Linked DNA regions of Homo sapiens: all the other regions are linked to region 2. The links come from fine-mapping of genetic effects on gene expression. A gene starts in region 2. Each other region holds a variant in brackets. All regions are shown on one strand. Distances are between the middles of the regions.

Region 1 (10,666 bases), 41 kb after region 2:
TAGGCCAGGTGCAGTGGCTCACACCTGTAATCCCAGCACTTTGGGAGGCTGAGGTGGGCGGATCACAAGGTCAGGAGTTCGAGACCAGCCTGACCAACATGGTGAAACCCCGTCTCTACTAAAAATATAAAAATTAGCCAGGCATGGTGGTGCATGCCTGTAATCCCAGCTACTCAGGAGGCTAAGGCAGGAGAATCGCTTGAACCGGGGAGGTGGAGGTTGCAGTGAGCCGAGATTGTGCCATTGCACAATTGTCACAGCCTGGGTGACAGAGTGTGACTCCATCTCAAAAAAAAGGAAAAAATGTACAGCAACGTGTGTACATCTATACATACATGTCATTCTTTGAAATTTTATGTGACTCTTAGATTTTACATCTACTTTGATTATTTTCTTTCATTTGCCAGAATTGATGTGTTCTGCAAATGCTGTTCTCAATTTCAGTATTATCCTAATTACAATTACCTTTCTCTTTTTAGCCCCTGGAGGAACGCGCATAGATGATGGTGACAAGACCAAGATGACCAACCACTGTGTGTTTTCAGCAAATGAAGATCATGAAACCATCCGAAACTATGCTCAGGTAGAGCCTGTTTGAGAGACTGAAGCATTTGAAGAGGACTGAGGAAAACTCTATAGAAGCTCTACAGTCCACCCACTTTTTAAATAGGAATCTTAGAAAGCCTTTAAACTTATGAAAATAATGGGCATTAAAACTACAAAAATAGGCCTAGCAGTGTGGCTCGAGCCTATAATCCCAGCGCTTTGGGAGGCCATGGCAGGCGGATCACTTGAGGTCAGGAGTTTGTGACCAGCCTGGCCAACATGGTGAAACCCCATCTCTACTAAAAAATACAAAAATTAGCTGGGTGTGGTGGTGGGTGCCTGTAATCCCAGCTACTTGGGAGGCTGAGGCAGGAGGATCACTTGAACCCAGAAGGCGGAGGTTGCAGTGAGCTGAGATCGTGCCACTGCTCAACCTTGGTGACAGAGTGAGATTCCATCTCAAAACAAAACAAAAAGAACTACAAGAATATAATGCTTTTTTTTTAACCTCTCTTGTGGGAATTTAAATATTTATTCTTGGATCAGGAGAATTCGTTTTTCTTGTATACATGTTAAGGAATATGTAAGTATTAGTGTAAGTTGGAAATAAAATTTATGGGATTTTAATGCAATTTATTTCTTTTTCTTATTGTGTGTTAATTCCCTGCCTGAGTCATTCTTTCTCCATAAAGGGCAACCATATTTTTTACTCTTGGACTCCATCTTGATTACATTAGGAAACGAATACACCAAGAGTTGTAAGTAGGAATATAGCCTGTGTGTAGGAGAAAAAGGAACTAGATTAAGAAATCATTTCCACAGTTATTAAAATAACCAATATTTACAAAATCCTCATTTACATAAAAACATCATTCCACTTAGAAAACTGTCTAGAATCTTACTAATACAGTTGCAAACTTTGCTTCAGAGTTCTAACAGGACTGTAGGGGCCAGTCATCCTTTATTGCCAGTAAATTATAACACGTTTTGCTCATCTGCTAGAAACATGTTTGTTGTCCACCTAGAGTAGAATCTGTCCTGCACTTTGCTCTCCTCCCCATCACATCGTTGTCTAAGTGGTTATATCTTTAACACCTTCATTTCCGTGATTTTTAGTCTCTGCATCTCACAGTTTAAAAATCACATTTATTTTATTTTCGTCGAATTTTTTTTTCTACCTGCTATATTCTTGAATGAATTTGTTTTATCTTACGTGTACATTTTGATCATATTTGTTCCCCTAGGTCATGATAGCATCTTTGAAATGCTTATAGTTCTTATATTACAGTGTGAGCCTGTTTAACTATACACTTTTATTATTATAGATCTATGGTGTCATTATAGTGAGTTTCTATTACCTACTTCTGTGTCTTTTTGGTTGACCTAATATTTAATGGTTGTTTTTTTTTTAGGTCTTCAATAAACTCATCAGGAGATATAAGTATTTGGAGAAGGCATTTGAAGATGAAATGAAAAAGGTAAAAATTCAAATATAATGCCTATCTGTTTTATAGTAATGACATGGGGGTGGATAAAAATTTTATAAGTGGCCGGACACGGTGGCTCACGCCTGTAATCCCAGCACTTTGGGAGGCCGAGACGGGTGGGTCACAAGGTCAGGAGTTTAAGACCAGCCTGGCCAAGATGCTGAAACCCTGTCTCTACTAAAAACACAAAAATTACCCGGGCATGGTGGCATGCACCTGTAATCCCAGCTAACTGGGAGGCTGAGGCAGGAGAATTGCTTGAACCTGGGCAGCAGAGGCTTCAGTAAGCCGAGATCACTCCACTGCACTCCAGCCTGGGCAACAGAGCAAGACTCCATCTCAAAAAATAAAATAAAATAAAATTTTACATGTACAATGATATTGCAGAAGTGCCATATATGTAATAACATGTATGTGAAACACATAGTGAGTTTTTAATACATGTTTGGTAAATAAGTATGAAAGATCATTAGCTAATAGCTATAGGAAGAAATATGTGATTATTCTGGACTTTTTCCATTAATATTTAATGTAAGACAGTGTGCTTTGTTCAGTAAGAATAGTTTTACGGGCTATAACCTCTGACCTTGCAGAGATTAAAATGAAAACTAGATAAAGTGATTTAAGTAGTTAAAGCCTATGGAAGAATGTAGCACAGCAGCTAATGTTCAGCAAAATTCTTTAATTGTATGCAGTTTAGCAAAGGGAATAAAAGCACCTCTTTGGAGATAGAGTATATAGGTGTAATTCTCAATACTCTTTCTCATCAGTGAAATCCACAGTAGCATCTCCTTAAAGATGTCCTCTTTTGAGTAATTGCATGTTCCCTCTTCCAATTTGTAACTCCTGTATTTATATATGGCACCCACTACCTTTACTTGTTTCAGATTTGTTTGTTACTTTGTCATTGCTTCCAATTTTAGATAACTATCTAAAGTAAAAAACCAAGTGAAAAAAGTAACCATAACATATACTTACTTCTTCCCTACTTACTTACTCTCCCCGCTCCTCCCCACCTAACTGCACCCCACCCCACCCAGTTCAAAGTGGTTCTGTGTATAATATTGAAGAGCAATTTGGCAATAGTCATTAAAAGAAATGTTTCTTACATGACCCATGACCCAGCCGTCATGAATTTATAAGAATCCATTAGCATGGATATATAAAGCTATATGTATGAAGATGTCACCACAGTATTGAAAAATAGCCTAAATGTTCATTGGTGGGAGATGAAGACTGTTTAATTAAATTACAATCTATCTATACAGTGGAATACTATGCAGTCTTTTATACTTGTAGGCATAACTACATGTATTAATAAGGGAAAATGCCCATGACAAATTAAGTGGAAATGCGAGGTGCAAAGCAACCATTTGGTAGTAGTTTGACCTGGGGCAAATTACTTAATATCTTTGTACCTTAGTGTTCTTTTCTGTAATTGGAGATGGAGACTGTTGTAGGTATTAATACACATAAAGGGATCAGAAGAGTGTCTGGTCCACTCAACAAGTTTTAGCTATCATTAGCATATAATGCAGTAAAAAACAATATGTGTGTATACATGTAATTATGTTTTAATGTTGATTAATATAATTGAGCAATGTGGTTATTATTTTTATGATGATCTAATTTTTGTACCATTTCTATGTGATTAAGTATATTTTAAATGAATATGGTTATATGTGTGAGCTTAAAGAAGTGGTGTTAAAATTTTATTTTAGAGGCTAATTTTTATTATTCTCGTTTAAATGTTATTTATTTTTATAATGGAGGAAAAGGACAAATTGACATGAACTGTCTATATTTATGTTAGTTCTTTCATTCTTCCCCATTTCTGATGCTCCTTGGAACTTAAGCCTTTCAATCCCTCATTCCCTCACTCCCTGGCACTTACTTAGATGTTAACTTCTTTTTAATTTGTTGAGAATTTAATAGGTATAAATTGAGAGGCAAATGGACTGGTTTGTTTCCAGTTCTGCCACTTTCACATAATGTAAATAGTCTATAATATAATAATCCTTCAATTCTTGGGGAATAGTAAGTTAATATTTTCTTATCCCCTACACAGTTAGTGGAATAATCATGTCATCAGGGTGGAGACACTTAAGTCTCTATCAATGCCAGTGAATTTTGCATTGGCGCAAAATAATGGAAAATCAGCAAGGCCCCTGTGGTGATAGTGGCCCCTGAGGAATTTCCATGGCAAGCCTAATAACTGCTGAAATGGAGAAAGTAACAGTAGAATGTAGTCAAAGCACAAAGCAGAGGAGAGTCAGGAGAGAGAAGGGCATCCCACAGGGCTGACTACTCTTAGAATTTAATACAGGAAGTGGGTTTTTCGTTTTATTTGCTTTGAGCTTACATTCAAATTTTCTAGGGTTGCTACTTTTTTAGTTCCCTGCCTCTGGGGCAAGAGAATCTAAAAGTTTACCAAAAAAACATCAAGAACCTAGAAAACCCCTTTCTCCCTCAACAGTCTTGTTTTGAAGACTGTTGTATTCCGTGAGCTCAGAAAAGTATATATTAAATGTCAAAAGCTTAACTTCGACTCTTTCCTGTTTTTTTTTTTTGTTTGTGTGGGGCTTTTTTTTGTTTCTATGTTTTTGCCGTACAAATTCTATTCAGAGAAAATGGGTACATGTAGCAGGGGAAGAGGTAGTCGCCCAAGGAAGTGGAAAAACTTGAAAAACAATACATTTCAGAAAACATGTCCATCATGTATACTTAACTCTCTTGCATGCACATAGTCAAACATAAATCCATCTGTTTACATATCATCCAAATATCTCTTTTCCTTTCCATGAATGTTATCTACAGCTGTGAGTAAATTAACTGAGAAGAAAGGAACTCTGCCTGCTCAAGTCACTTTCCACAGCATCCAGTTTATCATGAAATGAATTACTATGCTTTGCATATGACCTTCTGTTTGTGTGCCACGTAGCCATGGATGTTCACAGTTTATCTTCCCACTTCAGTCCTTTGCTTCATAGACATGGTTCCTTTTTTTTTCTTTTTCTTTTTCTTTTTTTTTTTTTTTTTTTGACCCACAGCTTCTCCTCTTCCTTAAAGCCTTTTCCGAAACAGAGCAGACAAAGTTGGCGATGCTGTCGGGGATTCTGCTGGGCAATGGCACCCTGCCCGCCACCATCCTCACCAGTCTCTTCACCGACAGCTTAGTCAAAGAAGGTAACGAGGCTCCTGTTTTCTCGCCTGTCAGACAACAAAAGAAAAATAAAGTCACAGATAGTTAGAAAAATGCCAGTGGCTCTTTTTGGTGTCCTCTATTACTCATTCTTCATTTAAGAGAATATCTTTGTATGGGTGTATATTGCCTTTCAAATAATAAAAGGAGTGGACTTGTTAATTGTAGGAAGTTTGAAGGAAAAAATATGCACACCTGTACAAAGACATATTAAGAAAGACT[A/C]ATAGCAAATTAAAATCTCATGGAAGACTTGATGCCTAGGTCAAATACCCCGAAATCGATCTGGTAATCTTTTTGCCCTTCGACACAAAATGGCAGCCTTTAACTTTCACCCCTATTATAAGAACAAAAACTGTTCCCCTCTCAAGGTCTAGAGAAACTGATGCTCAGATATTCATTTTGATTGCACTTTTTAAGATACTCATTGTCTCAGTTTTAGAAAACAATTTTAAGTCTGCTGCATTAGAAGGAGTCTTGTTTTAATTTTAAGGCATTAAGGGTTGGATAGGCATGCATACCATGGTTTGGTTATAGAATAAAATAAAAGTCGGCTGTTTACTTGTAGGAGGATAATGATAGTCAAATTACAATGCAACACAAAACAGTTATTTTTCCTTAAAAATAAATTAAAAGAGCTTTTGTGAGAACATCTGTTTCTTCTGAGAACTTAAAGTTTTCCTCCTACATATATGAAGTCCTAGCTTCATTCATGCCTATAGTGAAAGAAAGGAGTCATAGTTTTCTTGTAGCTAAGGAAAGAATAGTAAATTGAGAGTCAATTGGTCTTATTCAGAGACTCTTCCTAGTTTTTAGCTTAAAATCACTCAGATTTATGACAATTCAGACTCTGTAATTGTTAGATGTTATTAGTATTATGACATTTTAAAGTATTTCCCTGAAGAAAATTCACAATACAACACACATCTTATTTTTGCTATTAGCCATTTTGCACACAGAAAGTCAACATAGAATATAAATGTTAATCATTAATTATTTTAAATTATCCTAGCCAACATAACAGAAAATAATTGCCTTTCTAGTTTTTTTAAAAACCTAAGTGATGTCTGTAACTTCCTTTGTAATATATCCAAAAATTACGTTATTAGGTGGATAGATATCTGATAAAGCAAATACGGCAAAATATTAGTTATAGAAACTAGATGGTGGGCATGTGAATGTTCATTGTTCAATTTGTTCAACTTTTCTGTATGTCTGGAAATTATTGTAGTAAAATGTTTGGGGGGTGGTGAGGAGAAAAATAACTTTGCTATGGAAGTAACATAGTACCTCTGTTATATGGCTTTTCCTTAAACTCTGCCATCTTTTACAAACTAGAGGTTTAAACCCTTGCTTCCTAATTGGAAAAGGATTAAGAAAATGCTGGGTATGGTAACTCATGCCTGTAATCCTAACACTTTGGGAAGCTGAGGTAAAAAAATTGCTTGAGGCCAGGAGTTTGAGACCAGTCTGGGAAACAAAGCAAGACTCTCTTCTCTACAAAAAAAAATTTAAAAACTAGCCAGGTGTGTTGGCACACCTGTACAATCCCAGCTGCTCAGGAGACTAAGGCAAGAGGATTGCTTGAGCCCAGGAGTTTGGGGCTACAGTGAGCTATAATCACATCATCTTACTACAGCCTGGGCAACAGAGAAAGACTATCTAAAATAAAAAAAAAGAAATAAAGAAAATGGTTAAGAAATTAATCATTTTCCCCAGCTCATCCAATAAATGACCAAGGGAGATGGGATTATCCTACTCAGAGGAGTAACTATAAAGAAAGTTAAATCTCAGTTTTAGGCTCCTAGTTTCAAGCGTAGTTTTTCTTTACGATACAGATTACAGCCTAGTGTTAATTTATATTAAATTTTATATTGGTTTTATGAGCTAATGATAATGCTAAAAATTCATCTTAAGTTGTTTAACATGAACTTTCAGTTAAGGTGTAATGCATGTTTTGTTGTTATAGCCGTTTTTGTTTTTTTTTTAACTTAGTTTCTTTGCTTATTCAAGGGAAGAAAATCAGGTTTAGTTGGTGTCTATATGAATGATAGACCAATTAAATGCTTTTACTTTCCAGTTGCTGGAAGACCTGGGTCAAATTGGTATATAAGGACATGGATTTCTTATGTAACAATAAATAGAAAATTAGGACAGACCTCAGGCTGAACAGCAGTATCATTCAGGACTTAAGTATTTTTCTCCTGTTATCATTCATAGCATTAACTTCATCCCAAGGATGGTGCCCCCTCTAGTTGTTATAAGATGCCTGCTGACACAGTTATGGCATATTCTTCCTGGTTCAGGTTCAGTGGAAGAACACTTCTCCTGAACAGAGGATAATTTATCTTTCCTTCAGCTGATTGGCTGACACAGGCTGCATGACTAGTGCAGGTCCAGTAGCAATTGCCAGGGGCGTGCCTTGGGCAGATGAGCTTAAGCGAGGTCACTAAATTAATCATCAGAAAGGGGTGGTACCAGGACTTAGACTAATCAGTAGTCACCTGGACTGGATAAAAGGGGACCTCTTTTAGGAAGGAGGTAAAGAGAATAGAGGCTGCTTAGGCCACATTATCATTAGCTCATAACAATAGTAGAACCTTCAGTTTAGAAAAATCAGTTAAATGTTTCAGTTACATCTTAACTCTTCATTAAATAACCGCAACATAAATTTAGAAATTTGAAGTGTTCATAGAACTGTCTTCTTGTTATCTGATTATTTCTATTTGGAAATAAGTGGTAATGTAAATGTGGACATGTGATTAAATGGTTTCCTGATTTAACATAACTAGCTTAATAATGATTTTTTTTTAAATCCAGAAGAGTTTAACTTGAAACAGCCTTGGTATTTTTATAGCTTAACTCAAGAATATTTTAAAATGCTTTTTATGGCTGCGTGCAATGGCTCATGCCTGCAATCCCAGCAATTTGGGAGGCCAAGGCAGGTGGATCACCTGAGGTCAAGCGTTCAGGACTAGCCTGCCCAACATGGCGAAACCCTGTCTCTACTAAAAATACAAAAATTAGCTGGGTGTGGTGGTGCATGCCTGTAATCCCAGCTACTTGGGAGGCTGAGGCAGGAGAATCACTTGAACCCAGGAGGTGAAGATTGCAGTGAGCCGAGATCGTGCTACTTCACTCCAGCCTGGGCGACAGAGTGAGACTCCATCCCCCCAAAAATAAAAATAAAAATAAATAAATAAAATGCTTTTTATAAAAAGCAAAACTAAGGTAAATGATATGTGTTCATCTATTCGTAGCAATACTTATTGTATCTATCACTATCAGTGTTCTTGTACTGGCATCCTTTATTAGCAAATTACTTGATAAAGGTGACATTACAGTTTTGTGTCTCCTAATTTACTTTCTTGTGCCTCAAGATCACTGTTATAAAGATGAAATACATATGAACCAGAGGGTGAAATAAAGGCAATAACACCAAAGATACTGGGTGTGAAATATGTTTTTGACCAAGGTAAAATAAAATAAACTTGCAGTTAGACCAGGTTGGATTCAAGGAGTCCAAATTTGAAAAATATTTTAATTTATTTTCCTTTTCCTGAAAATGTTCTAGTTTGAGTAATGAGAAGAGGAGAATTTGCCTAGAGGTCTATTGACTTTTCATTTGTACCAAAATTAGTCTTTTAGTTATTTACACATTTCAGGAAACCTGGTTGCTTTGCACACCATCACAATTGGTTTTGCTCGTAAAAGGAATGAAATTCTCTTTTGTTTTTCAACAGGCATTGCGGCCTCATTTGCTGTCAAGCTTTTCAAAGCATGGATGGCAGAAAAAGATGCCAACTCTGTTACCTCGTCTTTGAGAAAAGCCAACTTAGACAAGAGGCTGCTTGTAAGTGTTTTCTGGTTAAAGAGTTGTATGTATGATGCCTTTCTTGGAGCTTAAGCAATGCCTGCAATGTAGTATATGAGTAAGATCCCTGGATCTGTGTTGACTTGGAGCACTGTTCCTTTTATTTCTGTGTAATTGGTAGTAGAAGCTAATTTCATTTTAATCTTTATTTTGTGAACAAATGGCACAATAAAATTAAAGAATTGTGAAGAATATAGACTTCCAAATTTGTAAGTTTGTTGACATAGTATTAACATTTCATCAGAATTAAGACTTTGTTTTATAGCCATAACTTTTTTACTTTTTTTTTTTTTGAGACAGAGTCTGGCTCTGTCACCCAGGCTGGAGTGCAATGGCACAATCTCGCTCACTGCAACCTCTGCCTCCGGAGTTCAAACAATTCTCCTGCCTCAGCCTCCCGAGTAGGTGGGATTACAGGTGCTCTCCACCACACCCAGCTAATTTTTGGATTTTTTTTAATAGAGACGGGGTTTCACCATGTTGGCCAGGTTAGTCTTGAACTCCTGACCTCAAGTAATCCGCCCACCTCAGCCTCCCAAAGTGCTGGGATTATAGGCGTGAGCCACCACACTCAGCCTATAATCATAACTTTCTAGACATTTTAAGGTTTTAATATGATAAAAATTTCATCAATCTCACTTAATCAAATACTTGTGATGTCTGTCTTGAGTAGCAGTCAGACTGTGCTAATCTCAAATGTGTGTTAAATAGTTTGCTAACAAAATAAAAGTTTAAACAAGATTTCCCTGGAAATACTTAAGCTGTTGCAGAAATTAAACAAGTTAATTGTGTCACAATTGCTTGATTATATTTTTATTTCTCCATCTTTGTGTTTTTCTAAGAAAATCCAGAAAAATATTTTGTTCTTGTAATTTCTATCTGCTCCCTACAATTTCTTTCTTCTTGATGCAGCAGCTGTGAAATGCCAAGATTTCTCCAGGTGGAATTGCTTTTACAGTTCTAGGATGAAGTGTAAAAATAAGACACAGCGCTGCCATCTCTTCACCTGGCCTGTTCTCTGTTGTTCTCTTCCAATGTGTTTCAGTGTGCAAGGGTCCAGTCCCATGAGATAATTCTAAGACTATCTCTTTTCCTCAAGAACACATGAAAGTAATTTTAAATGTAAATACTTGCAATTTAAATCACTTAAGAATACTTTGTTTCTTGAAGTTTACCTTAAATAGATTTGTGTGTTTAAAGTTTTTAGATTATGGTAAAAAAGGTACAGAAGTCTAGATTCTAGTTCATAATAATTTTCATTCCTCATGTTTCCTGAATGTCTACCCTGTGCTGGGCATGGTACCACAAGCTGCAGAGCCAGTAGAGAACAGGATAGAAAAGTTGCCTGCCCTCGTGAAACCTACTTTCTAGTGGACTTAGGGCAAATCCCTGTAAACAGAAGCAAAAGTCACAGAAGATAAGTGAATAGGTTGCTGAGGAAGGTGGAGGTTCATATGAAGGGAACATATTTCTTGTCCATGAGGCTGTGGGTTGTCTATAGATTAGCTCTATCTTGGCTAAGCCTGGCTTAGTTCCACATGCCTTTTCATTCGGGCACAG
Region 2 (10,666 bases):
TCTTCTACTACATTATAGCTTTTTCAGGAATACTATAAAGTGGAACAAGACCTGCAAAACTTGGCCAGGCATGGTGGCTCACACCTGTAATCACAGCACTTTGGGAGGCCAAGGCGGATGGATCACCTGAGGTCAGGAGTTTGAGACCAGCCTGGCCAACATGGTGAAACCCCATCTCTACTAAAAAAAAAAATACAAAAATTAGCCAGGTGTAGTGGTGCGTGCTCGTAGTCCTAGCTACTCAGGAGGTTGAGACAGGAGAATTGCTTGAACCCAGGAGGAGGAGGTTGCAGTGAGTCAAGATCGCGCCACTGCACTCCAGCTTGGGCGACAAGAGCGAGACTCTGTCTCAAAAAAATAAGTAAATAAATAAATAAAAGTAAATAAAAAGACCTGTAAAACTCTCAGTTTCCTTATCTATGAAATAAGGATAACAATATCCATCCCACAGTTATCTGAGGAGTGTCCTAATGTGGAGCACATATAAGCCTTTATTAGATCTTCTTTTTATTTTGTATTCAGAGCAGCACAATATAATTCATTGTAACATTTCTAATATCTAGATCGGGAACACGGGTCTCTACCAAAGACAAGAAGATGCAGCCAAAACAAACAGAACAGGAGAAACAAACATTCTGTTTTCAGCAATTCATCACACAACCATGAGATTCAAACACGTATAGATTTCAATCGTTATTCATTATTATTGTTTTAATTTTTTATAGATACAGGGCCTTCCTCCATCGCCCAAGCTGGAGTGCAGTGGCATGATCATGGCTCACTGCAGCCTTGAATTCCTGGGTTCAAGCAATCCTCCTGCCTCAGACTCTTGAGGTGCTAGGACTACAGGTGCACGCCACCGCACCCAGCTAATTTTTACATTTTTTGTAACAACGGGGTCTCACTATATTGAGACCCAGGCTGGTGGCAAACTCCTGGGTCCAAGTGATCCTCTTGGATCCTCCCAAAGTGCAGAGGGGTCACTCTACAGGCATGAGCCACTATGTCCAGCTGGATTGCAATCATTATTTATTGGAAGCCACGAAAACGGATATTTTAAGGAATATATAATCAAGTTAAGGATTTAGAAATCTATTTGGCTTTGTTAGTTGTTATAGTGTTTACGTATAAGTAAAATCATGTAAAAATGTTTAAAGTGCCTTAATTTTAAAACAAGAACATATGGATATAGATTTTGATATAATCATAGATATAAAGCTATAAATATATTTTAAAAGTGAAACCCCATCTCTACTAAAAAGACAAAAATTAGCCGGGCGCGGTGGTGCACGCCTGTAATCCCAGCTACTCAGTAGGCTGAGGCAGGAGAATTGCTTGAACTTGGGAGGCAGAGGTTGCAGTGAGCCGAGAGCGCACCATTGCATTCCAGCCTGGGTGACAGGGTGAGACCCTGTCTCACACACAGACACACACACACACACACATAGTGGAGACTTCTAATTATAACATGCATTTTGAAATCGTGAATTTGTGCGATGTTTCTAAAAGGTCTCCTACTCATATCTATTTTTAGACTTTGTAAAAAAATGATCTTAAATTAGTATTACAGAGCACTGTATAAAATTGGGAGTATCTAAAAGAGCTGTTGCTGTGAAAATGAAGACAATGAAGCCCATATAGGTTGCATAACCTGTCCAGCCATCCAACTAATGGTAACCATATATTTTAATTTTTTCTTTGAACTCTGTACTATAATTGGTTATAAGCAGACTTGAATGTTTCTCAACCATAAAGACACCAGAAGTATTATTAACGACACAGGACCTTAGAACAGGATCTTATTTCAATAGTCCCAAATTGGAAACAACAATTGGGCATCAATGGGAATGGATGCACAAATAGTAGTATATCCTTCCACTGGAAATAAAAGAAGAAAATAAGCTACATACTATTGGTACACATAATAAATATGAACCCCAAAATCATAATGTTGAATGAAAGAAGCCAGCCCCCCCTCAAAAAAAGGATACTTATTGTATGATTCTACTAATATAAAATTCTAGAATAGAGAAATCTAATCAACAGAGGCAGAGATCTGTTAGTGGTTGCCTGCAGATGGGGGTGAAGTTAGTGACAGATCACAAAGAGGCATAAGGACTTTTTAGGGGGTGATGAAGATGTTCATTATGTTGATCTTACTGATGGTTTCACAGATGTATGTTTAAATCAAAACTGATTAAAAAGTGTGTACTACCTGTAATATGTGCAATTTATTGTATCTCAATAGTTGGTAAGAAAAAGCCTTATTATCCAAACTTGTTTCATAGCTCCTTTACACAGATATGAAAAAAAAAAAGGAAGTATAATACTTTCTTGTTAGCAACAGTAAGCCCAGGAATTTCAGGTACTAAATAAGAGAAGTAATGTGAAAATTATCTAGCTCATAGCCTTAAAAAAGGTTTAATTTATTTCATAATAGTGCTTGCTCTGAGATTAATGAAAAAGGTATCAAAGCTTAGAAGAATGGGTAACTCTACAAGTCATATAAGCCAGTTAAACACAGTTCAGTGATTTCAATTTCCTCTTACATACTGTTAAATGAATGCTGTCATTAACTATGATTTAAATGGGTATGTTGGAAACAGATTTTCATTTTCATCTGGAACTTCTTGGCATTCTAATAAATAAAAAGCCCCACTTAGAGTCTGTCTTTCTGGAGAGCAGTGGCTGGCAGATGGGAATCACTTAAATATTTGCCGAGTTTATTTCAGATTGACCAAGATGCCAGGCTAGACTTTGCTGAAAAGTTGTTAGTTCAAAGTACTAGAACTTATTGTCTCATCTAGAGTTTTTCAAAGTTGAAAAACGTATGAAAGAAAAAAAAAAAAACTCACTTCACCCACTTTAAAAAAAATGCCTCTTTTTGGCACAAATATAAACTTTGCTTATGGCCTTTCTTCAACTATAAAATAAAAATTTACTTTAAATTTAATGCACACAGAACTACAAAATCAGTAACATTTAAAACTGAGTTAACTTGACAGATGTTGTTTTGCTAGAACTAAATGACCTCTCAAAGTGAATATTGTATGGACTGCTATGGTACTGTTTCATGTTTTGTTTAGTTTGTTTTTAGGTACAGCCTGTTTATTACCTATGGGCCCTGTGATACCTCTGCTCTGCCACTTTCTGCCACTTACCTGTTTGACACTAAGTTTCCTAACTTCCCAGTTCCTCAGTTGCCTTGCCTATAAAGTGAAGATTACTATATTTATCACAAACACAAGCAGTATTTCGAATGCTTTAACTATACTAACTACTTTCATCCCCATAACAACGTTGTGAGGTGGGTATTATTATTATTCCTATTTTTCACACAGAGGACTTGAGGCTCAGGAAAAGTCACTTGCCCAAAGGCCACATCACCAGTAAATGAGTTAGAATTTCAAACCAGACCTGCATGGTTAACCACTATCCCATGCTGTCTCTCATACTGTCATAGCTTAAAATTAATTCCTAGCTCATCCAAATTAAATGCATTAATATATGTAAAGTACTTAAAATTATGTGTGGCTTGCAATAACAGTCAATAAACGTTGGCTATGGTTGTTTTTCTCATATCTCCCATTACTTTTCTTTATGAGTGCAAGTGATGTCCCACAGACCTTCATTTGACAAGAATGCATCACATACTAGGTCCACATCAGTTCTTTTCTCATTGGCATGGTCCAATGAAAGCGATGAAAGCATCAGTGCACTCATGCAACTTGATGCACCGTGTGAGCCCAGAAATATCACAGCACTAACCAGAATAAATGCACATTAATTCAGGTTTATATAATCTTCAAAATAAATACTGATGGACACCTGAGAATGTATCCAAGGAATCCCTTCTCCCCTCTCAAAGACTCAATTTATAAAACTGCTCACTATTTTTCACTTTTAAGAGATCACATGATGGGCCAGGCCCAGTGGCTCATGCCTGTAATCCCAGCACTTAGGGAGGCCGAGGCAGGAGGATCACTTGAGCCCAGGAGTTCGAGAGCAGCCTGGGCAACATAGGGAGACCCCCACCACCCCATCTCTACAAAAAAAAAAAAAAAATCTTTCTAAAGTAGCCGGGCATGGTGGCTCGCACCTGTAGTCCCAGCCACTAGGGAGGTGGAGGCTGCAGAGAGCTGCAACTCCAGCCTGGGTGAAGAGTGAGATCCTGTCTCAAACAAACGAGAGAGAGAGAGAAAGAGACAGCGAGAGCGAGAGAGAGAGAGGACATGTACTAGCTCTGTCCTGCCTAAAAGAATTTTTGTCCCTGGTGGATTGTGAATTGATCCTTTGTCTCCTTTTTGCCCAGCACAGTACCTGGCACACAGCTAGAACTTGCATGTTTGCTTAATTGAATCCCAGAGCCATCAAAGGCAGGGAGAAATTACCTAGAGACAGGAAGAACTGAAAGACTGAAATGCCAAATAGGTCAGCAAGAACCATGCAGTACAACAATCTAAACTCTAACCCAAATCCCCAAATTCCAGGCAAAGAACACATCATTGATAGATATAGCTGTGACTGACTTAGAATAGTTGAGATCAGATCGGGTGGGCTCAGCTCATCAGCACCTGTTGAGTTCAAACCGGAATTTTTTCTCCTTCGCATGTGGAGTTTCCTTGTCGCTATGAAGAATAAATCTGCCTTATTCTCTAGGATTCCACATTTCAGCCTGGCTACTAAGTAAATAAAACTGGAAACTGGGAAGCCTTATGCTGCAATGACTGGCATCTCTGCCATTCGAGGACAAACATGGCTATATTATTATTGAGTTTAAAATCACCACATTAATTGCCCGGAGTCGCACGCATCACCATCCCTGCACCGTGAGGGTGCAGAAGAAGCATGCAGTCACGCTGATGTCACCTGCCAGGTAACGGGACTCGGCAGGGAACTCCTCTGGGACGTCCACTCGGGGACTCCGGGGAAATATGGCTTCTGGCTCGTCCTCGGGGCTCCCCGCTGGGACTCAGCACTGCGGAAGTGGGGCACGCCTTGGGGGAGTGGACAAGAAAGCGCGAAGGAGCGCGATTAGAAGGTCTCATCTGTGCAACGTGGGCCGAGGGGTGGGTGTGGAGGCCTCGCCAATTTCCTTGTCTCTCTAGGGTTCCTGAGGCTGTCGGGGCTTCTGGAAGCCAGGGAGGCCCTGGATACGGAAGTCTCAATGCAGCAAATTACAGACCTAGTTCTGTACCCTTATGAAGAACCCCTCTCCCTAAGGGCGCCCTCCACTCCCAAGCGGGGGCGGGGATCGGCAAAGGATCCAGATCATTCGGCCTGCGGAAGTCTAAAGGGTCATTTAGACACCCGCCTAAGAACCTGAAACTACCAGGACTGACCGCGGTCAAAATCCCTCGGGAGCAGTGAAGAATTCACACACTGGGGTCCACACCCCGGGAAGCTCGCATTAACCTAAGGCGGGGCGTGGAAATCCGTACGTTTCCAAAAGCGGATTTAGAGGCCGAGCCTCTGTAACTACCCCTCTTGTCCCAGCACTGCTTCTGCCTCCCCACCTCTCCGCCCCTGCAACCTTTCCCAGACCAAAGGGAGAAACGCTCTTTCCCGGTTCCAGGCTGCAAACCTTGCAGAACCGCAGCCAAAGGTCACCCAGGCCAGGAGCGCCCCCCGGGCTCCGCCACGCCCCCCGGCCAGGCTGGCCGCGGCCGCGTCGCAGCCCAGCACCCGTACCTTTCCCGATGACTTCCAGTAGCTCCTTCTCCTCCTGGGTCAGCTCGCCTTTCTTTATGTGAACCATTGCTCCCGCCAGCTTGAAGGTTATTCCCTTTCTTAGGGAGTATTAAAAAAGAAACGATGCGTCTGTATTGGGAACGCCAGCCGCAATGAGGCAACTTGAGACCAAGACACTGAGTAGCCAACCGCGGAAACGCTTCGCTTCTCTCCTCCCTCCCGCGGGCTGGCGGACAGCGGGCGAGCTCGGGCGAGCCAGGCGGACGGTCTCCGCAGGCCCTGCGGCGGTCACCGCCTGCCGCCTGTCATTGGCCCTGCCGAGGAGGAGGAGCCGCAGGAGGCGGTAGCGAGAGATCGCCATTGGAGCAACCTGGGAGGACAAAACCAAATGCAGAAAGCTGGAGGGGGGAATTAAATTCCTCCTACACGTTCCGCTCCCCTATCCTGTCCGGTTCAAATATTTCGCCACATGTAATATTGAAAATTCTACAGCTGGCAGTTATGTGCTCAGCGACGGCTTTCTGGGGCATGCAGAGGCCCCAGGTTGTCGCCGTACCCCCACCATTCCCCCGGGAGTGGCGCAGTCTGGGCGGGGGCGGTCTAGGAGACGGGGGCGGTACGGGAGGCGGGGCTGCGCCGGGTTCCGTGTGTCTATGTCAATGTGTCTGTCCTTCACTCCTCCATTGTCTGCCGCCACTGCTGCTGCTGCTGCTGCTGCCGCTGCTGCTGCACGAATCGCCGCAGCCCCCAGCCTTGCGCGTCGTCGCTACCTCCTCGGACAGGTGAGAAGCAGCCCAGGTGAGGCAAGGGGCGCCGTGAGGGTTGCGAGAGTAGCGACTGCCGCCCCGCCGGGGTTTCCATCGGGCAGGAGCTGGCGGGGAGGAAGCATGTGCCTCCTGGGGCGGCTTCCTGCCTCGCGGTGGAGAAGCCCCCGCTCCACCTCATCATCACGGCGCGTACGGGGTATCAGTGCCCTGGGATGAAGACCTCCGACTCGCAACGTTTGGCCGCCTCGGGAGACCCTGGGACCGCGGGCGGGCGGGCGGGGGCCAGCCACGCGGTGGGAAGTGGCGGGTGCACATGGTCTCGTGCGTGGCACCGCCAGATGCGGCTCCCGGGGAGGCTGGGGCCGGGGCTCTGGGCTAGGTAGGGGTCGCAAGGACAGCGCCCCATTACTAGCGAGTCAGTGAGAACAGACTCGGGAGAAGGTAGTTTTTACGCTGGTGATCCTCGCCCTCCCCACTACTTGTCATCTCTTTGGCCTCTGTGGAAGCTGTAGAAGAAAACCTGATCGCCCAATGTTGCTTGTTAAAGATGTTTGGAAACAATTTACACTTGCACTAATACTTCGTTTATGAGAGACAGCCTGTGGGAGGGGGAAGGAAGGGCTTCTTTGCTCTGCTAGAGTTCTCGGTTCTCTTTGTAACTCAGATCTTGAGATTTATGGAAATAGGGAGTGGAGGGTGGGGAGGTTGGAGAGGGCGGAGATTAAATTGGTGTTGCTGCCTATATATAGCCTTAGATTAGCCTCTTAATCCAACCTTCATTCAACTGTAATATGTAGCCTGGAGCTTCGACCATAGGTAGATGGGGGTAAATACAAGTGTGTATTTCAGAATAAGATTTGCTTGCTAAAATGCGGGAATCAGTCATTTCTCCAGGGTGCAGATTTATATTTACATCATCAATGAAAGTTTCTTTGGAAATTAGTGTTTATGTTTTACTGTTGTTTCCCTACAGAGTAGTATTGATGTTTCTCTCAATATGTGTGTCAAAGAGACGTGTATGTGTCAAAGAGAAATATTTGAGTAATTATGTAGGTGGTTTTTGTTAAGCATCCCCAGGACCACTGTTTCTTCTCATAGCGCCATACGAAAAGCGAAATGCATTTTCCTCTGGCCTTAGGCATTTATTTTGCGTGAAGCTTTCACTAACATCTGAAATCTCCTGGAATATGTTTATCATTATTTCCTGCCTTTAGCAAAAATCTTTCCTAAACTCCAGCTGTTTTTCCCCCCTAAAGCTTCAGCATTAAAGACTGGGACAGATCTGAGCCAGAACATCTTACATGAAAATGGTTTGAAATTATTCATCTCAGTGTATAACAAAGATACTTTTGTTGGATGATGCTTTAATAATGATGTGGCTGTTCAAGCAAGTAGTAAGGCTCCTGAGAGTGACCAATCTTTTGTAATGCTGTTAGTTCAGAGTTACAATTGATTTATAACATAGTATCATGCGGAAGAAACCCACAAACCTAAAAAAACAGTTGAGTGGTAACCTCCTGGAACATGTGATTTAGCATCTTACCAGCAGATGCATACACATAATTGGGTACTTCATTGCTAGTATTTCCATCTCTTGTGCCAAATCTGGGCCATGGTTACTTGAAGGTCACACCTGTTTGTCTCACTGGGGTTGTCAGTTCCTCGAGGATAGCAGCTTACTATCTATTTTCTTGATGCCTTATGACACTTGGTTGGTATTTAGTGCTCTCTGAATACATGACCAGTGAATTTAGAGACAATAACGTTGAAAGAGAATCTAACATCTACCTAGAAATGCAAATAAATCATGTTCAGTTTACATTTCTAGAAACAGATTCATAATGGGTACTGTTCATTAGATGGATTGATTACATTAGTAGTTTTGTATGGTGTAAATATTTAATGTAGGGATAAGATTAGATAATGAGCATATTAAAACAGATTCACATCAAAGAAGTTTTATTGATAATAAGATAGCTACTTCATATTGAGTATTTAGTCTGTGCTAGATATTCTACCAGATGCTTTGCATAGAATTATTCTAGTGTTATGACAACCCAGGAATGAGCCAATATTATACCCACTTTGCAAATAAGAGGACAGAAAGTAAGGGAAATAATTTGCCCACAATCCCATATTAGGAAGTGTCAAGTCAGAATTGGAATAATGATTTCTGAAATGTTTGAAATGTTGTATGTGTCCTCTCATATCTACCACTCTAGAGCTATTGCAATGCATCTTAAGTAGCCTGCTTCTCTCTCACCTGTCTCCATCTAGCTAATTCAGGGAACTACCAGTTCAATAAACATTGAGCACCCATCATTCTTTGAATGGCTCTCTGCTGGCCACAGAATAGAGGGCTGGGTCTGGCCTGGAAGGTTCCAATCCATCCATGGTCTCAGCAGGCATTTCCAGTCATCTGGGCCCTCCCACACACTGGGCTCTAAGGTCACCACTCTGCTTGTTCCCCAACCTGCCGGTAATTTCCACCCCTTTGTTCCTGCTTTTCTCCTCCTCTGAATGATTTCCCTTCCCTTTTCACTGAATCTCCTCTCCAGATCTGATGAACTATTCAACTTTCCAGACACAATTTAAACAAAACCTCTTTTCTTCAGCTTTTGTGTTCATCTCTCCCTCTCTATCCAGTAAGGGAAATATACATGCTAGTAAATACATTTATTCATGTCTCTTGGCAAGGGTTATAAGTAAAATCTTTGTACATGGAGGATATTGATATGCAACATGGCTACTGGTATCATTGCTGGCAGCCTTTAATTCTCTCTTCTTATGGATTCTAGCGACCCCTCTTTTACCGCCCCCCTAAATTGACATCATTGCTTCTTCATCTGAATCTCCATGAAAATACCTAAAACAAGCACTTTCTCATCGCATTCTATTATAGTTATTATTAATCTGTTTGGTCCCTTCTCATTCTACAGTATACATTAACTAGGTCAAATTTATCTTTGTTTCTCAGGTTTAACCCAGTGTCTTGCACCTAGTGTATGCTCAGTACAAGCTGAGTTGAATTCAGTTTGATTTCTAAGTTATTTTAGGTGGATTTGTTTTCCTACTTGACTAATCCTTCCTGGCAATGTGAGGTGAGGTGGCACTAAGCACGCACAATCATAACCAGAGGCAGAAAGTCTTTAAATGTTTTGGATCTCAAGCTTCTTGACATTCTGATGAATGCTATCAACCAAGAAAAATTGTTCTTGTGCACATGTTACAAATTTGGCATGCCATTCTTAGATTTCCCCATTAAAGACCCTGATTTCCAGCTCTCTACATTAGGAGAATGCTGCCTTTTTGTTGCATTTTTGAGTATTACATCTTTCAGGGTACTGTTTGTCTTGACATTTGACTTTTTTTCCTTAGACTTAGGTATCTTTATTGACTGGATATTTGATAATAAGAAATTTTGATTTTTTTAAGTTGGAAGTAGATTACGGTTATATTTTTAAAAGATTACTTATCTTTTAGAGATAGGAACAGAATTATTTCAGAACTGGATGAGAAGACAGCTGAGATTTGCTTTAATATAATTCTGTGACAGAAAGGAAGAGAGACTGAATGAGAATATAAATGAGATAAAATTGACTATGTTAACAGTTGAAGATGGGTGATGAGTATATTCACTTGATTATACTGTTCTCTCTACTTTTGGATATATTTGAGATTTTCCATAATGAAGTTTTTAAAAAGAAAATTTGGAAGTATTACAGCCTCTAAGAAATCTTTTTTTTTTAAACACAACATAAGAAAGTAATATAAATACAAATGTTCTTTTTTCTATACTTGGAGTTTCGCTTATGTGATTATTCATTTAAGTGTTAAAACAGTTACACCTAAATCTGCAAAGAACTGTCTTGTGAACAATGCGTTTCCATAAACATTTGACATCACATTTTAACTTCTCCAAAAAGTAAAAGGTTGGTGGCATTACTCAGTGCTTGTAGAACAAATTGATGAATATCTTACTGGTAGTTAATCTTCATCTTTTTTGAAAAGAAAATTCTGAAGAAGGGGTACAGATACATTTAGTTTAACTGAGAAAATCAAGAGGTGAATGAAGTGGAGATACTGATGTTCTTCTGTGCGTCATAATCCAACTCAGAAGGCATTCCAAAAAAAAAGAGTACCAAAACTGTTTCGAGCAATGTCAGCACTGATAGGATAAGTATTAGTCTAGGAAAATCAGGAGCAGG
Region 3 (10,666 bases), 29 kb after region 2:
TAAGTTTTGTATTTTTTAGTAAACCTGAAGTTTCATCATGTTGCTCAGGTTCGTCTCAGAACGCCTGGGCTCAAGTGATCCATCTACCTTGGCCTCCCAAAGTGCTGGGATTACAGGCGTGAGCCACCATGCCCAGCCATGTAATATTGGTTTTAAATCACTTTTAGCTTTATAGTAAGTGGTGTTAATAACTAAATGAGCAAACCTTTAAATCTTGAAATATATGTGCAAATATGAGTATGTGTATATATATAATTAGAAAATACATTTGATTTTACAGGAAAAAAGAAAATATGTGATTTTTAAAATTCATTGCTACATCTCAGTGACATCCAGAAAGGGATGTAGGTTCTGCTATTATATCACTTCACTAATGTGTTTTTAACCAGTTACTGTAGTTCCCACAGTAAGCAAGTTAGGTAATGTATACGCATATTTGAGTGTCAGAATTAGGCCCATTTCTTCTCTATGTCAGTACAAGGGCTATGATGACTAACTCTTGAGTATCACAATTATGATTCACCAGCACAGTTTAAATTGGAGACCCTAATTATATCCTTCTCACTTCAAGGCAGACTTGAACTGCCAAATGGAAATCCAAGGAGGCAATGGCATATTTTCATTCGAATTTTGTTAGTATTTCTGCTAGACTGTCCTCTAATAAAATGCAAACTACATTTACTGTACTTTCAGATGAAAAAGACTCTTTAGTTCCAAAGTTGTCTTGTTTCTCAAGTTTTCATTAGTGTTCTTGCCATTTTCTTATATGGGAATTTTCTAGTCCTTTTGATGGTCACTTTGTTTTAGCAGCTGGGAGCTTTTTTCAGCCTGCAAAACAATTATTAGTCCTTTCGGTCCATCATAAGTTTTTAAGATTTCCAAGCTGTAAGTAATCATTTTGACCTACCACCCTTATTGCTCACTGTTGAAATATCCTTGGCTGTAGTATGCTATCTTCCTTTTTCTGTTTGCTGGTAATTCTTTTGGAATGGGAGGATGAAGATCTTTTTACAAACAAGTTTTTAAGTTGTGTCTTACATTGAAAACAAAGTCCTCTGCATTGATTCTTGGCATAATCTGGGTTTTTCCTCATTTATCCATTTACATTTCCCAATGCCTCCATTTGTAATTTTCAAATCATCAAAATCTGTTCTACCACCTGAATCAACATCCAACCATGTGGTAGGGCCTTTGTGGGAATGACTTTATTTGATTTTGGAAACTGGTCACAAGACTTAATATAACAGCATGTAGTTGTTTTATTTCCACCTTTCTCATATTATAGGAAAGAAAATATCTTTTTTCAACAAGGAAGGAGAATTGCCTGTTGGCTAGACCCTGAGTGGGAGGTGAAGTTTTCTGTGCTTTTCAGTGGGTTCCTTTTGTGTAGAAACCCAGTTATCCCCTCCTCCCACTCCACCTAATGTATTCCTCTAGAATTCCTATGCGTTTTCCTCCCCCTCTACACAACAAGACCCTAATTATATTTTTTCTGCAGTCACCATTTGCATGTTCTTGACTGCATAATGTTTTGCTTACAGCATCAAAAGGACTTTTTATCTCTTGTTCATGATGAATATTGTCCCAGTTAATTTATGTGTGTCTTTATGGTATCTCACGCTGCGTGACTCTGACTGGTACTGGGAATGCCATTCTTCTCTGGTTCTCATGCTTATGTGACTAGTGTTAACCACTTACAACCCAGCCCTTCTGTTAGACCACTTACAAGCAGTACAAACTAGGCAGTTGCTATATGGTTTTAAAATGTAGTTTTTAATTTTATCAAAGTTATGCATGCACATAGTATGGCTAGTTCTTGATTTTTTCTGTTGGAGATAGTAGATATGCCTTTTCTACTATGGAAAATGATGATTCAGCTCTCTTTCATTGCTTGCTTCCCCCCATCCCCATACTTCCTGTCCTTCTCTATTCTTTCATTGTATCATATAGTTTCAGCTACACCAATGTTTAGGGTTTATATTTTTGTGACATTGTACATGCTATTCACAGCTGAACTATGATATGACTGCATTTTTAAAAAATAACGTTATTTTGTTATCTCTTGATTTAATAAATGTAATTATCTCTTGAGTTGGGGGGCCTTAGTTTTCTGTGCCTTAAAACTAGCCCACCCTAACCTTTCCCTTTGTTGTACGAATCTCTTAATACAAAACACTTAAGGAAAAGCTTGAAATGTCCTTTCACCATTATCCACAAGAGTACTATTGCCTGTCTTGTTTTTTCCCTCTTGCCTGGGATCTCATGACTTACTCTTCAGTTATTATCCATTTTTGAGGCCTTGGGTGTTTCAGTATATGTATGTTCGTATTGCTCTTACCCTTGATTAGTAGTTTGGCTGGGCCAGGCACAGTGGCTCATGCCTGTAATCCGAGTACTTTGGGAGGCCAAGGCAGGTGGATCTTTTGAGGCCAAGAGTTTGAGACCAGCCTATGCAACATGGCAAGATCCTGTCTGTACTGAAAATACAAAAGCTAGCTGGGTGTGGTGGCATGTACCTGTAGTCCCAGCTACTTGGGAAGCTGAAGCAGGAAAATCACATGAACCCAGGAGGCAGAGGTTATGGTGAGCCAAGATTGCGCCACTGCCCTCCAGCCTGGGTGACAGAGTGAGACCCTGTTTCAAAAAAAAAAAAAAAAATCGGAACACTAACAAGAATTCTAGGCTGGAAATACTTTTCCATAAGAATTTTGAAGAAATGTCTTCTGTGTCTGGTATTTCTGTTGAGCAATTTAGTTGCTTGATAAGTTTTACATACCACTTGTTTTTTTATCACCCCGGAAACTTCAGATAATTGCTTTGTTCCCAGTATTCTGAAATCTCACAGTAATCAATGTACTTTGTGTGAATCCACTTTCAGTCTTTGTGCTGGGTTCCCAGACAGCCATGTACTTGGAAACAATCTTTCATTTCTGGGAGATTTATTGAGATTTTTCAAAAAATTTCCTTTCCTTTGTTTTCTCATTCTGTCTATTCGATGTATTTTTTTGGATATTTGACAGGTCTGCCCTTTTTCTCTTCTTTTTGCTACTATTTTCTAGGTCTTTGACCTTTTTTCTATTTTCTGAAAGATAATCTTAGGTTTCTCTTAATGCTTCCATTGAGTTTTTTACTTTTCCTATCATATTTTTTATTTCCAAGAACTCTTTATTTATGAAATATTTTTATAGTATTCTCTTCCCTCCATCCCTCCCACTTCTGTTGCAGTATCTTTCACCTTTCTCTCTAGAGAGATCTGTGATACAATTTTTTCTTTTGAAGTTTTGGGTTCATCCTTTGCTCCTCTCTCCTCACATCCAGACTTATTCTCCATGGGTTTGGAAAAAAAGGGTGATGTCCTTTGAGTTGAACTACAGACCCTTTACCTTTAATCCACTCATTCTTTTCCACCAAATCTGACATGTGGTTTGTCATCTTCACTTCTTATCAACAGTATATGATCCCTGCTTTGTTCAAGACCTGGCTCCAAGTCGACCTTCCACAAGGTTTTGCTAGAGTCTAAACCAAAACTCTTTCCAAACCCAAACTTCCAGTCACCACACCAAACTACTTCTGCAGACTCATGTGTCCATTTCACTGTGACAGCTCATTTATGCTTTTCATGTGTGCCTTTGTGATTGCTCTGTGTTTGTCTTATCCACTTTCTTTTTTTTTTTGAAACGGAGTCTCGCTCTGTCACCCAGGCTGGAGTGCAATGGCGCGATCTTGGCTCACTGCAAGCTCCGCCTCCCGGGTTCAAGTGATTCTCCTGCTTCAGCCTCCCGAGTAGCTGGGACTAACAGGGGCCCGCCACCACCCCTGGCTAATTTTTTGTATTTTTAGTAGAGACGGGGTTTCACCACGTTAGCCAGGATGGTCTCAATCTTCTGACCTCGTGATCCGCCCGCCTCGGCCTCCCAAAGTGCTGGGATTACAGGCGTGAGCCACCACGCCCGGCCTTGTCTTATCCACTTTCTAAGGAAAAAAAGCTACATAATATCTATATCCCTGTCAGTCCTCTGAAGCCCCACAAAATCAAAACCATTTTTATAATGATACCAAGATATTCACGTCTTTCACACATTCTCTCATACTTTTACAGTGGAGTTTTCTAGAGTTTAAAGATGTGTGATATTGCAGTAAATTGAATGCAGTGGATATGAAAATTGATCTGTCTGCCATTAAGCCAGGCATTAAAGAGAATTTGCAAGAGTATAAAACAGTACTATCCTTCTCACTAATTTTTTTTTGTTAAATAAATACTATAAAATGTTTTGTTTTAATTTCTTAAAATAAATATCCATAGATTGAACCTCCATAAACAAAAACTCCCTTTGGAATGCTTTGGAGTTAGGATTCCAAAGAGTTTTTGGGTTAGGATCCAAAACTTTGGAATTAGGGTTCCAAAGTTTAGAATCCTAATCCTTTGTAATTAGGATTCCAGAGTCTTTTTCCAAAGGATACTTTGGAATCCTAATTCCAAATGTACATTTTAAGTGTCAAGAGGTCATGAGACCAAAAAGTTTAGCACATCTGTCCTGAAGCTGTAGATATACATATATGGCTCATTACATCTATTAAATATTTAAGTACTCTGCAATAAGTTATTATTATTATTTTTAATTTTTTTGAGACAGCGTTTCACTCTTGTCTCCCAGGCTGGGGTGCAATGGCACTGTCTCTGCTCACCGCAACCTCCACCTCCTGGGTTCAAGTGATTCTCCTGCCTCAGCCTCCCAGTAGCTGGGATTACAGGCACCCACCACCATGCCCAGCTAATTTTTTATATTTTTAATAGAGACGGAGTTTCATTGTTTTGGCGAGGCTGGTCTCGAATTCCTGACCTCTGGTGATCCACCTGCCTTGGCCTCCCAAAGTGCTGGGATTACAGGCGTGAGCCACCGCGCCCGGCCTACAGTAACTTATTTTAAAAGAGACATCCCTTCTTATTCCCCTATGCCATCTTTATTTGTTTGTTTATATTTGTATATTCTCGTACATTCTTTGGCGATGCTCTGTGGATTTTTTTTTCCTATCTTAGATAAAATAGAATTAAAGTTTTGATTGTTATACTCTCAGTATTTATTTATTTATTTGACTGTTATTTTGAATTGTTTTATTTTAGATGAAAAAGAGAAATTCGAACCCACAGTCTTCAGGGATACACTTGTCCAGGGGCTTAATGAGGCTGGTGATGACCTTGAAGCTGTAGCCAAATTTCTGGACTCTACAGGCTCAAGATTAGATTATCGTCGCTATGCAGACACACTCTTCGATATCCTGGTGGCTGGCAGTATGCTTGGTAAACCATGCATTATCGCTTCTTGTAGTATATTTATATATTTTTAATTCTGTTGAAGTATTTCCTTATAAGATAGAGTCTTTATAAGTTTATGTTTATTAGAGTTAATAAAAATACAAATGGAAGCCTATAATTTTACCTGGTTTAGGATTTGGAATGGTATTAATGCAGATGTGAAATGATTATTGGTTAATAGAAGCATAGAATGGAGGACTTTGGTTGACGTTACAACAAAGTTGGCCACTTTGCTTCTCCTAAAAGCC[G/A]CCTTTCTCATATGTCCCTAATCTTTCAGTGTTTTTGGTGGGGCCATAAAAGGGGTAATTTCTGCAAAATACTATAACTTAGTGTATAAATTTCCAAGGTTTAATTAATGCCATTTCATCCATAAATAAAGCATATAAGAAATATAGTTTAAACCTGGTTTTTGAAAAATCATTTAAATTTTAAGTAAGTAGAAAAATTAAAGATAGAAGATTAGAAATTGTTAAAGATAGGTGAAAACAAAATAAAAGCTATACCTTATAGAACAGAGGCATCAGGAAAGTAGGCTTCAAATGCTATTTAAGTTTATTAAGTAGATGATTCTAATATTTATTAAGTATAATAGCCACCCATTTTTCCTCTCATAGTCATTCTTAGATCTGAGTTCTTATCGTTAGTTCCTGTCGTAGCTGTAAATCACTAGAAACGGTCAAATTTCCTAGGCCAGGAATTTTCAGTTTGCAAATGTGTGCAAGTGTTTTAGTTGTTAAAAAGACTTAAGCGGGGAGGGCAGGTATTTGTCTACCTGCTATGCAAAGAACATGCAACATAATGAAAGATTGCCTTGCCCAAAGTGCCATCATTGCCTTTCCTTGAGAAAACACTGCTTAAGCCAGCCTACCTTGGCTTTGAAAAAGAATGTGCATACATTCCTCCATCTTGAGGTGGAACTGCCCGTAAATTCCTTTTTCTCTGAGCTCTTATTTCAAGCAATCTGTTTGGTACATGGCCCCATTGACTACTAGGCCTTCTGTCATTCTGCCTTGCTAGTTTTCACCACATACTGAATTAGTTTTGTTGTTCTTATTGTTTATGAAGAGCTTACATTATGACTGTAAATAATTCAAGTCTAAGTATAACAGCTATCTATATTGAGCTCAAATCCCATTACCCGGGAAAAATCATTGTTAACATTTTGGTTACTTCCCTTCTGGAAATCTCTTTAGCAGCCGGGCGTGGTGGCTCACGCCTGTAATCCCAACACTTTGGGAGGCTGAGGCGGGCGGATCACCTGAGGTCAGGAGTTCGAGACCAGCTTGGCCAACATGGTGAAACCCCGTGTCTATAAAAAAATACAAAATTTAACAGGATGTGGTGGCGGCTGCCTGTAATCCCAGCTACTAGAGATGCTGAGGCAGGAGAATCACTTGAACCTAGAAGGCAGAGGTTACAGTGAGCTGAGATCGAGCCTCTGCACCCCAACCTGGGTGACAGAGCGAGATTCTCTCTCGAAAAGAAAAAAGAAATCTCTTTACCTCATAAAATTTTGAGACTGGGTGACATTATGCAAATACGATATTCTGCATGCTGATTTGTATTTATTCAGCAATATGTTGCTGCCTTGCACACCCATCAGTGTTATACTGGATGATTCTAAAAAGAATTAAAGCCAAACGGATGTTAAAGAATATTTAGGGGCTGGGCACGGTGGCTCACACCTGTAATCCCAGCACTTTGGGAAGCCAAGGCAGGCAGATCACCTGAGATCGGGAGTTCGAGACCAGCCTGACCAACGTGGAGAAACCCTGTCTCTACTAAAAATACCAAATTAGCTGGGCATAGTGGTGGGTGCCTGTAATCCCAGCTACTCAGGGGGCTGAGGCAGGAGAATCTCTTGAATCCAGGAAGTGGAGGTTGCAGTGAGCCGAGATCACACCATTGCGATCTTCAAAAGGAACATTATATTTAATATTTTATCAAAAATTATGAGTTCCTATTTACATACACCTTTAACAATGTTAGCTACCTAATTTCATCAGTTCTCTAGATCTCTGTCAATTAGGTAAGGGATGAGTATTTTCATTTTAAAACTTTAATAGTGGAGTTGAATATTTCCTAATATATTATTGACTTCTAGTATTTCGTTAATTATGATATATTTTTATCAGAGTGATCTTCAGCGAGTTTTGGTTCTTGCCAAAGTCACATGACTGTAGTAGTCACTTATATGGACCCTTTTCAGACTGAGTGACCTCTAGGCAGCACTGTTGGCCCTTTTGTCATTCTTGAACTCTTTTATTTTCTTCCCTTACACGAGACCACTTAGACCTCCTTCTACCTCTCTGCATGCCACTTCTTACATTACTCCTGGCTTCCATCGTTAACCACCTCCCCATATAAAATTATCTGTATAATTTGTGTTGAGTTTCTTAAAGTTTCCTTTACCATGATCAGCAGATTTATCTCTGTAGCCCAGATTTCTTTTTTTTTTTTTTTTTGGCAGTTGCAAGATTTAATGGAGTGAAAACAGAGCTCCCATACAAAGGGAGGGGACCCAAAGAGGGTAGCCATTGCTGGCTTGAATGCCTGGGTTTATATCCCAGTCATTATCCTTCCCACTGTGCTCTCAGGCAATAGATGATTGGCTATTTCTTTGCCTCCTGTTTTTGCCTAATTAGCATTTTAGTGAGCTCTCTTTACTACCTGATTGGTCGGGTGTGAGCTAAGTTGCAAACCCCATGTTTAAAGGTGGATGTGGTCACCTTCCCAGCTAGGCTTAGGGATTCTTAGTCACCCTAGGAAATCCAGCTAGTCCTGTCTCTTAGTACCCCCTCTCAACAGGAAAACCTAAGTGCTGTTGGCGAGGTTGGCCAACGACCGCTCTAACTTCTTCCTGCTGAATTGAGGTGTAGTAGGGGTTGTGTAGTTGAGATTTCCTCGGGAGGGGTGCCTTCAATGTCATTAACATTGGAGCATGGGCTAGCAGGCCGGTCCAGGGGTCCACGGTAGATCTTATTCATGGACTGCATCTGGGGCTCCATTTGAAGAACATTTTTAGTTTTACAGCTTCGATTCTGGAAGAGACAAACTTAACAAGGAGGTTAAAGATACAGGGATTGAAATGTATGGCCTGCAGTGCAGGGGATTATTTCTTTGGCACACTTCACAGGCCCTGACTATCTGCTTGATAGTTTTGAAAAGGCCTGGTCCAGTAAATAATAATTTGGGCGTCTGGGTGCTATCAATGCCTAAGTGAAAGGTTTGGTGAAGGGTTTTAAGTAATTTCCATTGGTTAGTGCAGCCCAGATTTCACTTCTTCACTGCATGTCTATACATTCAAGAAGAACATAGGGCCAAACGTTTTGGTATAAGCTATGCAACACCAGATGTCTACTGAGTCCGGACATGTGACGTAAGGACTGAAGCCAGCTAGGTGCATTCTTCTTACATAAATGCTTTGTTTAATTATTATGTAGAAATTTTCCTGACACTCACAATTTACCTTCTTCCATTGTTCTTTTTTTTTTTTTTTTTTTTTTTTTAATGCTGTCGCCCAGGCTGGAGTGTTGGCTCACTGCAACTTCCGCCTCCTGGAATCAGGCAATTATCTCGAGTAGCCGGGATTACAGGCGTGTGCCGGCACACCCAGCTAATTTTGTAATTTTAGTAGGGATGGGGTTTCCACCATGTTGGCTAGGCTGGTCTCGAACTCCTGACCTCAGGTGATCTGTCCCAAAGTGCTGGGATTACAAGCATGGGCCACCACGCCCGGCCCCATTGTTCTTAAAATAGCAGCTATCTTGGTCTTTCAATATTACCCTTCGTATAGTAAATACAATAAATGTATTAAGTTCACTTCTACCTTGAGAAAAACAGCAGTCACTCCAAAAACGTTAGAAATGGCAAACAATACTTTGTCCTAATATCAGCAAAAATTTTAATGCAAGATGTAGCAATATTATTAATATGTAATAAGTGTTTTCTTTCATTAAACAATGTAACTTTAAAAAACATACCTCTCAAAAGTCTGTAGTTTCAATATCAAACTTTTCAGTTTTATAATTTCTATCAAAAGCAATAGCAATAATTAGCCCAGAGTTTTTAGAAGATCATTATCTAAGTTTGTTCCATATCAGGGGAACCAGCCCCCAATATTTCAACGTGGGTTCTTTTCTGTTTTCCCTAAGTGTTGGCCGGTGTGAGAAATAGAGAAAGAGTACAAAAGTAAGAAATTTTACAGCTGGGTCTCGGGGGGTGACATCACGTGTCGGCCTGAGCTGCAAAACCAGCAAGTTTTTATTAGCGATTTCCAAAGGGGAGACAGTGTACGAATAGAGTGTGGGTCACAGAGATCACATGCTTCAAAGGCAATAAAATATCACAAGGCAGATGGGGGCAGAGCAAGATCACAAGGCCAGGGCGAAATTAGAATTACTGATGAAGGTCCATGTCCCGCTGGGCACACACTGTCATTGATAAATATCTTAACAGGAAACAGGGTTTGAGAGCAGACACAACTGGTCTGACTAGAATTTTGCCAGGCTGGAATTTCCCAATCCTAACAAGCCTGGGGGTGCTGCAGGAGACCAGGGTGTATTTCATCCCTTATCTTCAACTGCGTAAGTATTGATTGGGGAAGTGATAAATGTCCATGAAATCTTCACAATTTATGTTCAGAGATTGCAGTAAAGACAGGCTTAAGAAATTATAAAAGTATTAATTTGGGGAACTAACAAATGTCCATGAAATCTTCACAATTTATGTTCTTCTGCCGTGGCTTCAGCCGGTCCCTCCGTTCAGGTTCCCTGACTTCCCGCAACAGTTCCAGGTGGTTATATTCATTTAAAAGGGCTAATTAAATCTCATGCATAAATTAATTGAGTGAAAATAGACTCTTGAAGGGGCTGACTTCTCCAAAAACTAATTTACTTACTAAACTGTATGCTGAAGTCTGAAGCCCATAGAGGGGATGATAAGCTAAGGAAAGTATAACTTGATTGAATTCTCATTTGCCTATGCCTGCTAAGAAAGGTGGCTATGGGTGGCCCTTTTAATCCAGAGATCTGAAATCACAAGTTAAATCAAGGTGATTATACACTAATACTCAAACAAATAAAGGGAGTGGCTAATGAGTAGAGAGTGTTTGTCTTTTCAGCTTTGACTATTATTGTATCCTTGGTGCCTAGCACAGTAGCTGGTATAAGTATATACACTAGAAACATTTGTTGTGTATATGAAAGATATTAATCTAACTACCCAAACCTTCTACCTTAATTACAACGAAGTAAAATTAGAAAATAAAAATTCCTAATGTTCTCATTCTGCTCTTCTAATCAACTAATGCTTCTAATGGCTACCATTGAAACTTACAGGAGGACCCTTTGA

Evidence for each region.
Region 1: its variant is fine-mapped to the expression of BZW2 in whole blood (TOPMed, PIP above 0.99). The same link has a PIP of 0.9 or more in nasal epithelium.
Region 3: its variant is fine-mapped to the expression of BZW2 in whole blood (INTERVAL, PIP above 0.99).

What each region holds. Positions count from the first base shown.
Region 1 is chr7:16,680,822-16,691,487 of GRCh38, forward strand. It overlaps BZW2 (basic leucine zipper and W2 domains 2), which reads left to right. Exons shown (of 12, transcript NM_014038.3): 4 at 480-583; 5 at 1,959-2,024; 6 at 5,084-5,219; 7 at 8,976-9,085. Among named protein-coding and RNA genes, the nearest start is that of BZW2, 40 kb to the left of the region's middle. The variant A/C (reference allele first, on the strand shown) is at 5,458.
Region 2 is chr7:16,639,816-16,650,481 of GRCh38, forward strand. It overlaps BZW2 (basic leucine zipper and W2 domains 2), which reads left to right and starts at 6,366. Exons shown (of 12, transcript NM_014038.3): 1 at 6,366-6,473. It overlaps ANKMY2 (ankyrin repeat and MYND domain containing 2), which reads right to left and starts at 5,939. Exons shown (of 10, transcript NM_020319.3): 1 at 5,692-5,939. The coding sequence starts at 5,758. RefSeq lists enhancers at 6,066-6,345, 8,540-9,051.
Region 3 is chr7:16,669,290-16,679,955 of GRCh38, forward strand. BZW2 (basic leucine zipper and W2 domains 2) reads left to right here. Exons shown (of 12, transcript NM_014038.3): 3 at 5,123-5,299. Among named protein-coding and RNA genes, the nearest start is that of BZW2, 28 kb to the left of the region's middle. The variant G/A (reference allele first, on the strand shown) is at 5,563.